2 separate regions of the Homo sapiens genome follow, and region 1 is reported to be linked to region 2. The links are microRNA targets in miRTarBase. Many come from high-throughput screens and were not tested one by one. Region 2 holds a microRNA gene; the other region holds the end of a gene's coding sequence.
Evidence for each region. Region 2 holds the annotated microRNA hsa-miR-5571-5p (CAAUUCUCAAAGGAGCCUCCC, at 3,377-3,397, shown strand). A microRNA usually pairs through its seed, bases 2 to 8, with sites in the 3' UTR of a target mRNA and lowers its output. Matches are read on the target gene's strand: a 7mer-m8 pairs with bases 2 to 8, a 7mer-A1 pairs with bases 2 to 7 and ends in A, and an 8mer does both.

Region 1 (7,000 bases), not on the chromosome of region 2:
TCTCTATTAATTGTATAGTGCAAAAAGGGATACCATATACAAAATCAAGAATCAATTGAATGAAATACAATAATTATTCTATGAATTAATTTTACAATCACACCATGTAAGTGATTAATATTCTCTATTGAATACTGTTCAAATGTGCCAAATAATGGATTGCTTCCAAGACTTTATCAATTTGTTTAAGCATGAAAAAGCTGGATTTTATTTGGCAAGGATAATAATTGTGCATTTAGCTTTCTACTAATAAAAAGGCATCCACTTACTAGCATTAGCAAATATGTTTTGAAGTTAATTTCTAAACAAATCTTCAAGATTAAACTATAATTGAAAAGCTTTGATAGTATCTATTGTGAGTTTAAGTTTAGAAATACAAACAATAAATTTCTTGCTTATAAGTAGCAAGAGTATATAATGACTAATAAACTGCAAGTCTGTCTAGTGTGAGAATTGGCTTTAATTCATACACCCACACACATGCACACACACACACACCACACAATAACTAGTACCAGCTTATCAGTTAATAGTAGTTAATAGGAGAAATAACTGCTGTTTGTATTTCATTTACTAGTAATCAGTGGAAGAAGACAGATAAATGTGGAGCTAAGAAAATATGAGTTATTTATGCACAAGGAAACTTCAGATGTTTACAACAGCCAAATCCCTGTTTTTATTCATTCATTTATCATGTATTTATCGAGCACCGATTTTATGTACTCTGCTAGTATCTGGGAATAAAATAGTAAGCTAAAACAAATGAATTACATTCTAGTGATAGAGACATATAATAAATAAGAATAGTTATGAATATCTAATCATAAACTGAAGGAAAGAAAGAGGTTTTATAGAGCATATTACAAAGTTACCTGAATTGGTGTTAAGGAAGGCTTATCAGAGAAAATGATAGTGTAGCTGGGTTCTGAAGGATGAGTAGAAGTTTTTTAGGTGAAAAAGGTTAAGGAGGAAAAAGAGAGTGAGCATTCTAGGTAAAGGTACAACATCAACACAACCTTGTGACAGAAGTGAGAAATCTAGTGGAGCTGGGGTTCACAGAGGTAGAGAGGGATACAAGATGAGTCTGGAGAGGGTGGCATAAAGTAGACTAATTAGAAGAAGGCCTTGTAGACAATTTGCAAATTTAAAAACAACTCTTCACCATCAATGACAAGAAAAGAATGATATAAAAGCAGTTGAGTGAAGGGAAAAGATGGTGTTGACTTGGATTAAGGCAATGGCTGTGTACAAATTCAAAACATATTTAGTTTACAAGTCAACAGCTTGGTGATAAGTGGAGATAGAGTTGAGGAAGAGAAGAAGATATCAAGGATGACTTGCCCAGCCAGAGGGATGGTCATGCCATCCGCTCAAATAGATGATACCAGAAGAAGGCCAGGTCTGGGGAAAGATTATAAAAGAGTCTTGGTTCTGTTGAGGTCCGTTTTAGAATTGAAGATACCCATGTGAGTTAGCTTGATGAATCCAGAGCAAGAAGTCCAAGTCTAAAGGTTCAAAATAAACAGAATAAAGACTAGGCAGTGAGTTTTTGGTGACTATACAAAAATACTTTAACAAGGAATGCCAGATAAAAAGAAAAAATAGTTGTAAATTGAGACAAGCCTAACACAATGAAAACATTTTGTAAAGCTAATACTAGGAAAACAATAAACGGCTTTATAAATATTAGAAATTGTAAAAGCCGGGGTTTAGTGAACAGAATCAAATCAAAACAAAAGAGCAAGACCAAAACTCCTGTTCCATGAAACCAATCCCTGTCTTTCAGGAAGTGGTAGTTGAGTTATGGCTGGGGAAGTATCATGTATGAAACAAGAGGGGAAAATCTTTGAGAGGGTCGTTGAGGTGGTTGGGGGAGGAAGAAAGCAAGTGTAGCTTATGAAGCTCCCCCTATATTAAGATAACTACAATACGTTACCCTCAAATGTTTCTGTCAGAAATAACCAGGTTATCCTGTTCTATCTTGGAACTGACACATGAGCATATGCAAGGCCAGTTTCACTATGAGAGGAAATTTTATTTTATTTTATTTTATTTTATTTATTTAGTTTTATTTTTTTGAGACAGAGTCTTGCTCTGTCGCCCAGGCTGGAGTGCAGTGGTGCAACCTCCACCTCCAGGGTTCAAGCAATTCTCCTGCCTCAGCCTCCTAAGTAGCTGGGACTACAAGCATGCGCCACCACGCCTGGCTAATTTTTTTGTGTTTTTAGTAGAAATGGAGTTTCACCATGTTGGCCAGCTGCATCTCGAACTCCTGACCTCAAGTAATCCACCCGCCTTGGCCTCCCAAAGTGCTGGGATTACAGGTGTGAGCCACCGCACCTGGCCAGTTTCACTATGGGAGGAAATTTAAGTAAAATCATGCTAAAGCAAATATCACACATTAATTGTAATGGAGTTATGAACGTTCAAATAAAAAAACCCTTTAGTTTATATAAAAACAAAGTCATACTTACATTTTAATAAGAAATGCAAATCCCAAATAAGTTACAGCTTTACTAGACCAGCAAGAATTAAAAACAACAAAAAAAGAAAGACAAGTTGATCTAGACCTCTAATTCTTAGGAATAAACAGCTATTTCAAATCTTCAGAATGTCTAAATTTGTTTTTTGGTATTCCATTTAAAACTTTAAGTCTCTTTGAACTTTAAGCTTTAAGAGTCAAATAATTCTACTGATTTTTGACACAGAATTAGATGGGATTTGGTCTTTTATGTCATGTGTTCCTTAAAATTTGAGAAATAAACAAAGCCTTACACACGGTTCTTTCTTTTTTTGAAGGCCAAGATGCACATTATTCAATTTCCTCTTGGCCTCAGAAGTTTTACTTTCTTCTGCATTACAAGAGTGAAATACTATTGGAAAACAAGGTGTGTCACATGGACTATGTAGCACAGTATATAGATCTATGTAAGAAATTGAAAGAACTCCAAAAGAACCACTTTCACATTTAGTGGCTGTAAGGTTGGATAGAGAGCATATTCTAAAATCTACATCTAGGGATATAGATTAGGGAGTCCCTGATACTTTCTGTTCTAGTAGTTTTTTTTCAAATATCTTTCCAGGAAAAACTACTCACTCTTATATTGGCCTAATGGAAAAATAAACTCACTAGAAAATTCCACGTTTTGTCAAAATCTTTATCAAGTTTCTCCCTACAAGAAATAAACAAAATAAAGCTTGAGAAAATAAAAGTGATTTCAGTTCACATAATACACACTTTCTTAAAATTCCCCTAATCCTAAGGGTAATGTGGGGGGCTAGTTTCAGAATACTTACTGAGCATCAAATTGTTTAGGAATTAATCAATAAATCTATGTAGGATACGAACAAGGTAAGTAGTCCAAACATTTGTGGTATAAGGTCTAGAAGATCGGTTGGTAACTACCTTCTTTAGACTTCAATACCACCAGGATGCTTACTTGTCTTTTTCTTACAAAAAACACATTCAGGCACCTGTGTTCAGCATTCAGTCTACTTCAGTGTCAAGACAAGGTCTAACAATGATAAAATATGGCATAAATATATGGTAATATAATAGAAACAATCTTGAAACTATATGCGATTTCAAATATCTTATTTCAAAAATGAATTTCAGTATATTTGGTTTTAGTGAGTAGCCACTGAGGAAAACAGTCTGCATGTATTTAGCAAGGGTAGTATCAATGCATCAAAAATATTTCTTAAATATTTTGAATAAAGGAGGGACACAAACTCAGCATGAAAAGTAACATCCTGGAGTTCTACCTACCTAGATCATATCTGAATTCTCAGCAGCAAGCAGGAGACTCAGAAAATGCTGACTTTAATTACAAACTTTATTTGTCAATACAATTCACAGTTTATACATGGCGCATTCCACCATATAAATTTTCGGAACAGTTATTTGAGGAAATGGGTGTAGCTTTCTTTCTAAAAGAGCCTGACTTTCTAAAATTTTGGTTGGATTTTTTTTAACTTTATAAAAGTACTTTTAACAAATTAATTGAATATTTACATTTCTAGCTTAAATTTAAATTTTGGAAAATAAGCGTCTATTAGTTTATTTGCTTCTTTTAAAGATTCTGGGTTTATTTTTCAAGACCCTAATCTGAATGCCACTTATTCAGATACAGCTCCCACCCCCACACACAAAAAAGTAAAAGAAATCAGTTTGCAATTATATTTAGGGAAATTATTTTCTTTCTGCATTTTAAAAATTATATATATATACAATGTACAGCAGATCTAAGTATGAAAATAAAGGAAAGGGTAGCAATTTACGGGGTGCATTTACTGAATTTTTTCTGAATCTTGGAACCATCCAAAGAATTACAGGATATAAAATTAAACTAAAAAGAATAATCAGCCTCTTTTATGTGAAAAAAAAACACAGCAAACTCTCAAAATTTAAATTGTGCTATAACAGCTTTTTCTCTAATGTCAGAGATGAATTATGCCTGCAATCTGCATTTTTCCATGTGCAAAGTCACAGTGATCCCAACTTCAACTTCTGCCCTCACAGCCAAGTCACAACTCCAAAAGTATACCCACAGAAGGCTAGGACTGTGCCCTGCACTCACCACTGTGCCACCTCCTCTCATCTGGCAAAAGTCACCCAACGAAAAGAAAATTATATAAGCCTTTCATACATCAAAAAGCAATTAGAAGCTGGCAGTATACTGTTTATTAGCAAATACTTGTAACACATTGTTTTGCTATTTTCTTTCCATCAGAATGATAATTCACACCCACTGTTTTAAATCCCCTCCAATAATATCCATTTTTAACAGTTTTCTTCTGTCAGGTCATTTAGATAGATAGATAGATAGATAGATAGATAGATAGATAGATAGATAGATAGATTTTCTTCTTCTGCCTTTAAAAATGTATAGTTATTAATAAATGATAAATTCCAAATACTGCCAGGAAAAAAGGGGATTGTTTGCGAGCAGCCAATTTTACCAGCCTGGTCATAATTACACTGTATATATGTACCACTGGTACCTGAGTCAAATAAATACTCAGAGGGGCCACCTCTGCACCTCATTTCTCTGCAGTGCCTTTAACGCTAGGCAACGCTGAGTGTTGCTTCAATGTCCATCTAATTTGGCATCTATTTCATCTTCGGGCATCATCACTTCAGTCATTTTACACACTGTTTCCAGCAAGGTATGGTATTCAAATGGGAGAACTGGGGTAAAAGACTGCAGAGGTGAGCCTAGGGGTGGGGGCAGGGAAGGAGAAACCACACATTAGCTAGAGAGGTTCTGTTTCTTCATAAGATAAGGCACTGACAGAAAATTTCTTAGGTAAAAGGCTGCATAAGAATTTCTTGTCATTTACAAAAAAAAAATTGTTGTCATCCATAAATGGTCCATATCTAGGCTCAGTTAGGTAGACCCTGAAAAGTTAAGAACTGATCCCTCAAAGCTACATTGTTACCAGAAACAATTCTCATTCATTCTGAGGCCTTATGGCACATTAGGGAAAGAGAGAGGAAAACAGTCTGGGCACAAAAAGGCATCAGACATTGCTTGTCATTCCACTCATCAAAGAAAGTGGACCGTTCAACAAGCATCATCAGAAAGAAAGTGCTGGCTCAGAATTCCAAATTCTCTTGATGATAGATGACCATGATGGGTGTATCTATTTTGTTCCCCCTTTGAGCTCATGCACAATTTAAAAAATGCTACCAGCAACAGTCATAAAGAGCATAGAGAAGTCCTCACCTATGGCTATGCCTAAGGTTATTTAAAGAGAGGGCTATTTGATGTTCTCAATCACAGCAATCTCTTCACCAGCACAGTGTGGCGTCAAACCATTCAGATAGATACTCTCAGTCTTCAGTAAGGGAGGCAAGACATCCCTCTCGCTGGTCAGGTGGTTCACTGACAGGGTCCTCCTACAAGGAGTCAGCTCCTGATTGTGGTTTCCAGCCAGTTCTGCCGAGAGCTTCCGCTTGATGGAGGTGGCCCGCTGGAACTTGTCATAAATCTCCACACTCAGTCGCCTCCTGGTTTCTTTGAATTCGGCTGTGACGTTGGCTGTCCACTCAGCAGCGTGTGCTCTGAACTCTCCCACCTGGAACATACAAGCAGAGAAAAGATAAAGATATTGACATGCCGATCAACATTTTCTATGCTTTATCTTCAGTTCATTTTATTTTGGGATTTTAAAAAGAAGAGTGGAGTAGTCTTTTACAGCACTGGTGGTCTGAGAATTGATGAAATTAGGCAGGGTATACACAGCAGGATTCTATCTTATATAGATATAGCTCTAAAATTAATCTATGAACTTAAACTCTATGAATCAAACAATATTTCAGGGGCTCTACATGTGCTTGTTTTTTATACATGAATCCTGTCATTGAAATTTTTGATGCTGTAAAAAGGCAATCTCTAGCTTTTAAAAAACATTTTTAGTATTTTTTTCACTTGTATCTAATTTCAAGAAGTATTGGAATGTACAAAGGGCAGTAAGATATAGTAGAAGAAGCAAGGCAGAATAAAAGAGTCTGCAATATGAACCCAGGTGACCTTGTTTAGTTCTGAAAACAGCAATGCTGTTTGCTCAGATGTGAACCTAGTTTTCAGAGATCAGAAAAGGTGTGTGCAAGAGCGTTGTATCCAACCTCATACTGGTCATTTAGGAATTCTCTTTTTCCTAACTAAGCAACAAAATATTTTGTTTCTGCTTTCAGGGAATGCAAATAAATAATAACTGTTAAGTCCACCTTGAAGCCCACTTGGGAAACAGTTAAACCCAAGGCACAGTTTCTCAAAAAGTGTTTGTGGAATCCGTGAAGTTACTCAACCTGTGGGCTGCCACCTCCTCAGCTGTAGAACAGACATCTTCACAGTACACACCTAACAGGATGGCTGAGCTAATGAACTTTACAAACTGCAAGATGTTATGCATTTATTATTATGTAGTTATCTTTTGAGAATTAAAGAAAAAAAAGTGCCATCGATCACCCTGAGTCCATCAGACATTTTCTTTG
Region 2 (7,262 bases):
CCTCTCTCTCCCTTTCTCTCTCTCTCTCTCTCTCTCTCTCTCCCCCCCTCCCCCTCCCCCTCCCTCTCCCTCTCTCTCTCTGCCTCTGTTTCCTCCTCAGTAGTGGGAAGACCCCCTGTCAGGTGGGCCAGTCCATGACATCTACAGAGGGAGCAGGAACCTCTCCTATTTCCTGGAGGAGAGCTGGGGTGGAGGCTGCAACCCAGGATCATCAGAGGAGCTGGGGTCTTCAAGGTTCCTAGGGACCCCTTAAGCGGGGGTCAGAGTGGCTTCAGCGGTCTTATTGCTCGGTCCAGACAGAAGATGTTTCCAGTTGTGAAAAACGACTTCAGGGACAACAAAAACAGAGATTCGCCTCTCCAGACACCAGTGGTTGGTGTGCCTGGAGTACTCCTCGTACCAGGCAGGGGAGAGAGTCCTAGACAGAGGAGGTTCTAAGTGTCACCTAGATTTCAGGCCTCGGGGCCTGTATTGGGTAGGTGATGTCACAGTGAGTTGATGCTCTGTAGCCCCTTCCCTAGGAGGTGGCAGAGGGAAGAGCTGGTGGTCCTCTGAGGTGTGAGTGAGTCCAACCCTGAGGGTCTTCCCAAGCTGGAGGTCCCTGGGTGTAGACGGAAGAGGTTCTGGTCAAAGAGGCCTGGTGTTGAATCCTGGTCCATTTATTCATTTGGTCAAGAAATATTCATGGAGGACCCAATATGTGCCAGGTGCCAAGCCAGGTGACTGGGGACACAGTGTTGAGTGGGACAGTTGGCTCCTTCACTGCTAGAGGTATTATATTCTCAAGCCGAGACTCGGCTCTACGATTGTATGTCAGATATATAGCCTCTATGTGCATGTCTCCAGAGACTGGTTTCCTGGAGTTCCAAGTGACAGCCATCACTCACCTCGAATGCAAAAATTAAAGGAGCATCCAAAAACCTAGTGACCCAGATAAATAATACTTAATGCAATATTTTCAAAAATCAAAATTAATGCCCAACAAACCCACAATGAACAAAATTTCAGGATCTGACTCACTCACCTCAGTGGTTTTGTTCTTGGTCCTACCCACAGTCCCACAGGTGAGTGAGTACCCACAGGGATGCAAAACCAGAGTCAGGCCCCTGCACCGCCTTCTGCCCGGCCACCAGAGCCCTCCCCTGGGTCTTGGCCTTTCTCTTCTGAAGAGCTCCAGCCAGTTCCTCCTCAGGCTTCCTCTACTGCTGGTCTCTTCTGCCCCCTACTGGATTCTCCCCTTACAGCTGCACTCCAGGCAGCTGGTGGAGGTTAAAGAACAGAAACCTCCCAAAACTCCACCCTCCAGTTCCAGGCTGGCTCCACCTCATGTCCAAAAAGGCTGGTCCTCCAGGTCTTTGATTGCTATTAGTAAGTCCCAAGACACAGTCTTTACACCAAGTCGCTGTGTGCCTTGGGCAAGAAACTCTCCCTCTCTGAGACTGTGTTTCCACACTGGTAGAAGTAGCTAGAAGACCTCCCTGCCAGGTTGGCAAGTCCACTCTGTGACATCTACAAAGGGAGCAGGGATCTCTTCCATTTCCTGGAGGAGAGCTGGGGTGGAGGCTGCAACCCAGGATCACCAGAGGAGCTGGGGTCTTTGGGGTTCCTGAGGACTCCTCAGAGGGGGATCAGGAGCTGCAGAGCCAGCTTCTAACTCTGGGGACTCAGAGATCCAGAACCTTTGTCATATCCCCAGCCAATACTTTGTCATCCTGTGCCTCAGACTCCCCCAGATCCCAAGAGTGAGAAGCTCAAGATGAGACAAGAAAGACCAGCCAGCTTGAATTTAGGGATGGTGGGGAGTGGGGAGCTGGGGACCCCTGGACCTGGGGGAGAGGAGTCTGCAGTGCCTGCAGGTGGAGTTTCTGGGACCTGGGGGATGGAGACTGGGCAGGGGACTGACCAGCAGAAGGCCAAGGTGGGGGATACCCTCAGACATGGAGCAGGGCAGAAGCAACTGGATGGGGTACATCCCTCTGCTTTGGGAGAGAAGGGCCAGGGCGGGACCCAGAGAGCTCTGCAGAGGCACCACAGACCCTCAGCAGGGGGTCTGCCAAACAGGACAGCTGGACTTGGCTGCTTCTGCCCAGGCCTGGATCCAGCCCTTGCACATCTCAGGGCAGGGGATAGGCCTGGGTGGCCAGAGCTGCAGCTGCACCTGCTGGGGAGGCCTAGTCCAGTCCTCCAGGGTCCCCAGACAGACTCGGATTTCCGACTGCAGCCACCATGGAAGGATGTGGTCTGCGGTGACGATGTCTATCCAGAGGCCATGGCAGGTGCAAGGGTGGGGGTAGGGGCAGCAGCTGGGGATGCTACATTTAGGGACAGCCCCTTTTTATCCCCAAGACCTGGGACTGTCCCTGAAAGGAACCACAGCTTCTGGGTCCTGAGCAGTGGGTGAGTGTCATACCCACAGAGGGGCTGGAAGGGAGCAGCTTCAGCCTAGACTCCCAGGGCAGACCCTGCCCCAGCCCCGAATATCCAAGGAGCCCAAGATCAGAGGCAGGAATAGGCCAAGCTCCCCAGTGGAGAAGCTGTGCTGGACCAGGGGTTTCCCAGGGCCCTCCCTTGTGCCCTGAATGATGTCTGTTAGGGCACCTACACCCTGTTACTGCTCAGTGCCTTGCCTATTTTGAAGGACAGGGATGTGTGGTGATTATTTGTATAATCCAGCCCCCAGCACCTGGTCCTCAAAAGTTACCCAAGCAATGTGTATAAAGATCCAGCCTGGAGATCTTTGAAAACCGATTCGATGAGTCGAACCATTAAGTCATGATCACCATCCTCAACTTCATCTCTTTCTTCCTCCTCCTCCTCATTATCATCACCTTCAAGAACTGTTAAGAGTCTGAGACTTCATCCTATTTGCAGACTAAAAAGTAAGCCTGCCACAGTGCCATGGATGCTGGCAGAAGATACAAGACTCCTGGGTCAGAGACAACGAATAATCTGTTTTTCACAGCAATAGCAGTTGCCAAGGTATCAGCATTGTCTTGCACCAGTTCCACAAGGTGATGCAAAGAGGGCCAGGTGACATCTGCATGCCAGAGCTCAGGGATCCCAAATATTTCATACTTGACAGTAAGCATATATCTGTGTTTTGCTCCAAAGAGAGGCATTCTCTGTACCTTCCGAGGTTGTTCACTCCACAAACACTCTTGAAAAGATAATCCACAATCAGTGCCTTTGCCCGAGAGACATGCAGAAATGCAGAGATCCATAGTAGACCACTGTCTCCCAACAACCATCAACTTTATCAATGAAATGAAGTCTCAGGCTATTTGTCTGTTACCATAGCCCACAAAAATGTCTGGCTTGATTGTCACCAAATGTATCAAGGAAGTTAAGGAGTATCTGACACAAAATGTGAACCAAGCAATTCTCAAAGGAGCCTCCCAGGAAATTCACTTTAGGAAGTCCTAGGAGGCTCCTCTGAGAGTTGCTAAAACAAAACATTGAGAGTCCTAGAGGGCTGCAGATCTGAACTTGAGCAGATATTTTTAAAGATTTTGTGGCAGAAAAAGAAACTGGAAAGCAAGAGGGCAGACCCTCATTGCAGTTCTGTAATGTAAGGGGGCAGAGCAGGGGCCTTTCTCACCAGAGTATGGGGTCCTGAAGATCTCCTCAAACATTTTTATACTAGGCTCTCAGGGCAACAGAAAAGATGGGAGCGATGAATGGGGCGTAAAGGAGTGCAAATGACACAAGGGGTCACATGAAGCAAAAGAGGTTTATTCAACCAGATTTAGTCCATGTTTAATTGAGCCACTCCTTTGTGCCAAGCTCTGGGTTTTCCCATGCACCAAGCAGTGTGTTACCACCTAGACCCAGAGAGCCATGTCATCATCAGCAAAGCACGCCCTAGTGTCATGCAAGGACCAGGCCTCAGATTCCGACTCCAGACCTACTGCCTCTTGGCCCTGTGACATTAAAAGAGTAGGGAATCAGCCTGAGCAGCATTTCCTCATCTTCAAATGTGGAGGACAGTAGATGATCTTAGCTCCCAGGATTAGTGCTTGTAAAGCAATAATAATGTAATGCATTATTATTGTATTATGCATCATATTCCCATATTATAGTCAAAAAGGACCCCAACTTAAAGCACCTGCCAGCCCTCTCCTCCTCCACCACTGCCGAATGGAGCCAGGCACGAGTATTCCAGGTGGACAGACGAATAGAAATACAGGGGACGAGCCCCTTCCTAGATCCTAGCGCAGCTTGCTCCCTACTTAAGGAATGATATTGGACCCTGCATTCATCTTCTCTGGATGGTAATTTTCTCACCTGTAAAACAGAGACACTGGCCCCAAGGACACCCCACAAGTAGTTGTGAATCCCAAAGTAAGAGAAGAACAAAAAAAGAACCAGAATTTATTCAACACCCACTGAGTGCTTAGCAAACACATGGTTTCTTTAACTCTCATAAGCTTCATGCTGCAGAGGAACTCTCCCCATTTTACAGATAAGGAAACTGAGGCCCAGAGGTAACCTAGGTCTAGATAGACTCCACATTTATGACTTCACCACTCTTCCTTGCCTGAAGGATATAGAATCACTCCCTGCAGGGCTCTTGCCTGACTCAGGAAAGGGCCACAGGATAGCCAGCCAGGCTTAACCAACCCAGCCAAGAAAGGGCTGGTCCCAACTGGCTGGAGTGCAGTGTACAGGCACCCAGCCTGGAAGACTGATCAGAAAAGAAGCCACAGCTCCAGCCCCAGCCCCAACCCCCTGAGCTCAAGCCCTTGGGGACTCCTGCTGGGCAGCTCTCTAGGCCCTAGGGAGATGCTCCACAGACCCAGGCTGCCCTTTGGGAAGTGGGGAAGACAAGTGGGTCAGGTGTGCACCACCCAGGGGCGGGGCCAGGCAGCCGGCTGTGGTGGGAGGCAGTTGAGCCCTGGATTGTGACCGCTTCAGGGCAGTTGGTAGATGCCCCTCTGGGAGAGATCCCCAGGGGTGACAGCCATGGACCCTGGAAGGGCCTGGGCTAGGGACAGGGACCAGAGCCAGTCCAGGGAGAGGACAGAGCCAATGGACTGGGGTGTACTGTAACAGCCCTGCTGGCGAGAGGGACCAGGGCACCGTCCTCCAGGGAGCCCATGCTGCAAGTCGGGCCAGAGGTGCCCCTGAACCTGAAGGCCAATGAGACCCAAGACAGGCCAAGTGGGTTGTGAGACCCCTGAGGAGCTGGGCCCTGGTCCCAGGCAGCGCTGGCCCCTGCTGCTGCTGGGTCTGGCCATGGTCGCCCATGGCCTGCTGCGCCCAATGGTTGCACCGCAAAGCGGGGACCCAGACCCTGGAGCCTCAGTTGGAAGCAGCCGATCCAGCCTGCGGAGCCTGTGGGGCAGGTAAGGGGCAAGAGATTCCAGGGGATGTGGGGGTCCTGCAGCAGAGCTGGGAAAGGGTGACCAAGGGGAGACAAGCCAGAGGAGTGAGGAGGAAGGTTAACCCCTAAGAGGGGCCTGGGCTGACACTGGCTTTAGTAATGGGTTGATATTTTGTCCATCACAGATTTGTTTGAATTACTGTTTTTAATATCATATTACGATATTATTTTTCTTGATTTCTGAGTTTTCTGGCGCCACTTAAATTTTCACCAGGGTCAGTGCCTCAATCACCTAGTCCTAGTCCTCTGGGTAGGGAAGGAACAGAGGCAGGGACAGGACATCCACAGGGGGTGGTGGCCACTGTCCCCACAGGGTGCCCAGGCCTGTTCCTCCCCCTCCTCCTCTCTGCCCATGTGCCTCCTGCCCAGTGAGGGCAGGGGCCACTCCCTGGAGAAGGCAGCAAGGGCTTGGTTTGGTCTCCCCCAAGGCTGTCTGTTCACCAACTTGCACATAAATGCTTACTGGGGCCAGGCTCAAGGACACAGGGAGGGTGGGATGAACCGAGGGGAGCTGTCCAGTCATTGGAACAGGCCCACGGCCCATGTTTGGAGCAATAAAGGGAGAGGGGATCTCCCTCTGGGATGATGCCCAGGCTGGTCTCACAGATCGAGGGGCACTGGCTGGTGATGGGTGCCCCCAAAAGACAGAGCAGCGTCAGAGGAGAGGAGAGCACAGGATGAGGCTGGGAGCTCCTGGGTGACTGGGAAGGGGAGGCAAGAAGACCATAGGGTCCGTGCACCATTCCCAGTCCAGGACGAGTCCTTGGATGGATTTAGGTAGATTGATTATCAGAGTCAGATTTGTGTTTTTGGAAAAATCAGCACCGGATTGGAGGCTGATGCGACGCCCGATTAGAGGAGGGAGGAGAGGGGGTGATGGCCAAGTCCAGGGTAGGTGGGGATCCTGGAGGAAGCCGTGCCTTGGGGATGGGGAGGACACTCAGATTCAGAGCACCCAGGGGCCCAGTTTCCTATGAAATGGGAGCATGAAGTTGAAGTGAGGGCTGAGCAGAGGGGAGCAGACACGCTCGGGGACTGTCTATGGGCATTAAAAATGTATAACCATTTTAGCAACAGGCGGCGAGTCAAAAAACAAAGTGTGTTTATCTAAACTGGGCAATTCCACTTCTAGGAATTTATCCTAAGGGTTGGTTGGGGGAATAATCAAAGCTGTAACCAAATCTTTATAACAAGGGTGGTTAGCTCAGCATTATTAGTGATGGGAGAAAACTGGAAAAAATCCAAATATCTACCAGAAAGGGTGTGAAAAAACACAATTGTATTTGGGGGACTGTTGTTGTTTTTGTTTTGAAACAGTCTTGATCTGTTGCTCAGGCTGGAGTACAGTGGCGTGGCCACAGCTCACTGCAGCCTCAACCTCCAGGGCTCAAAAGATCCTCCAGCCTCAGCCTCCTGAGTAGCTAGGACTACAGATGCAGGCCACTACACCTGGCTAATTTTGATTAGGATTATTATTAGTTTAGAGACAGAGCCTCGCTATATTGCTCAGGCCTGTCTCAAATTCCTAAGCTCAAGCAATCTTTCTGCCTCAGTTTCCCACGTGCTGGAATTACAGGCGTGAGCCACTGCACCTGACCCAACTGTGTTTTTAAAGTATATATGCATTTTCAAAAACCTGTCAGAAAATATAGAAAAATGTCAATGGTGTGTCTGGCTGGCTGATGGGATTTCACCTAATTTTAATGTGGCTTTATAATTTTCTGGTTTTGTGAAGTTGTTCACAAAAAGAGACATTTCTTCTAATATAATTTTTAATACAACAGTAATGTACTCATGTGCATTACTCTTTTTGTAATGAGTATATTACAAAATGTAATGACTTTTGTACATTACTCTTTTTTCTTGCCAAAAAAAAAAA

Region 1: miRTarBase lists KCNK2 as a target of hsa-miR-5571-5p. Seed matches in the 3' UTR shown: 7mer-m8 at 5,611-5,617 and 7mer-m8 at 5,450-5,456.

Annotation. Positions count from the first base shown.
Region 1 is chr1:215,233,909-215,240,908 of GRCh38, reverse strand. KCNK2 (potassium two pore domain channel subfamily K member 2) reads right to left here. Exons shown (of 7, transcript NM_001017425.3): 7 at 3,819-6,081. The coding sequence ends at 5,764. Among named protein-coding and RNA genes, the nearest start is that of KCNK2, 150 kb to the right of the region's middle.
Region 2 is chr22:22,882,915-22,890,176 of GRCh38, forward strand. MIR5571 (microRNA 5571) reads left to right here and starts at 3,353; the gene lies at 3,353-3,465. It overlaps IGLL5 (immunoglobulin lambda like polypeptide 5), which reads left to right and starts at 4,902. Exons shown (of 3, transcript NM_001178126.2): 1 at 4,902-5,345. The coding sequence starts at 5,140. LOC105372948 (a long non-coding RNA gene) reads right to left here and starts at 1,685. Exons shown (of 4, transcript XR_938047.2): 1 at 1,025-1,685. It also overlaps IGL.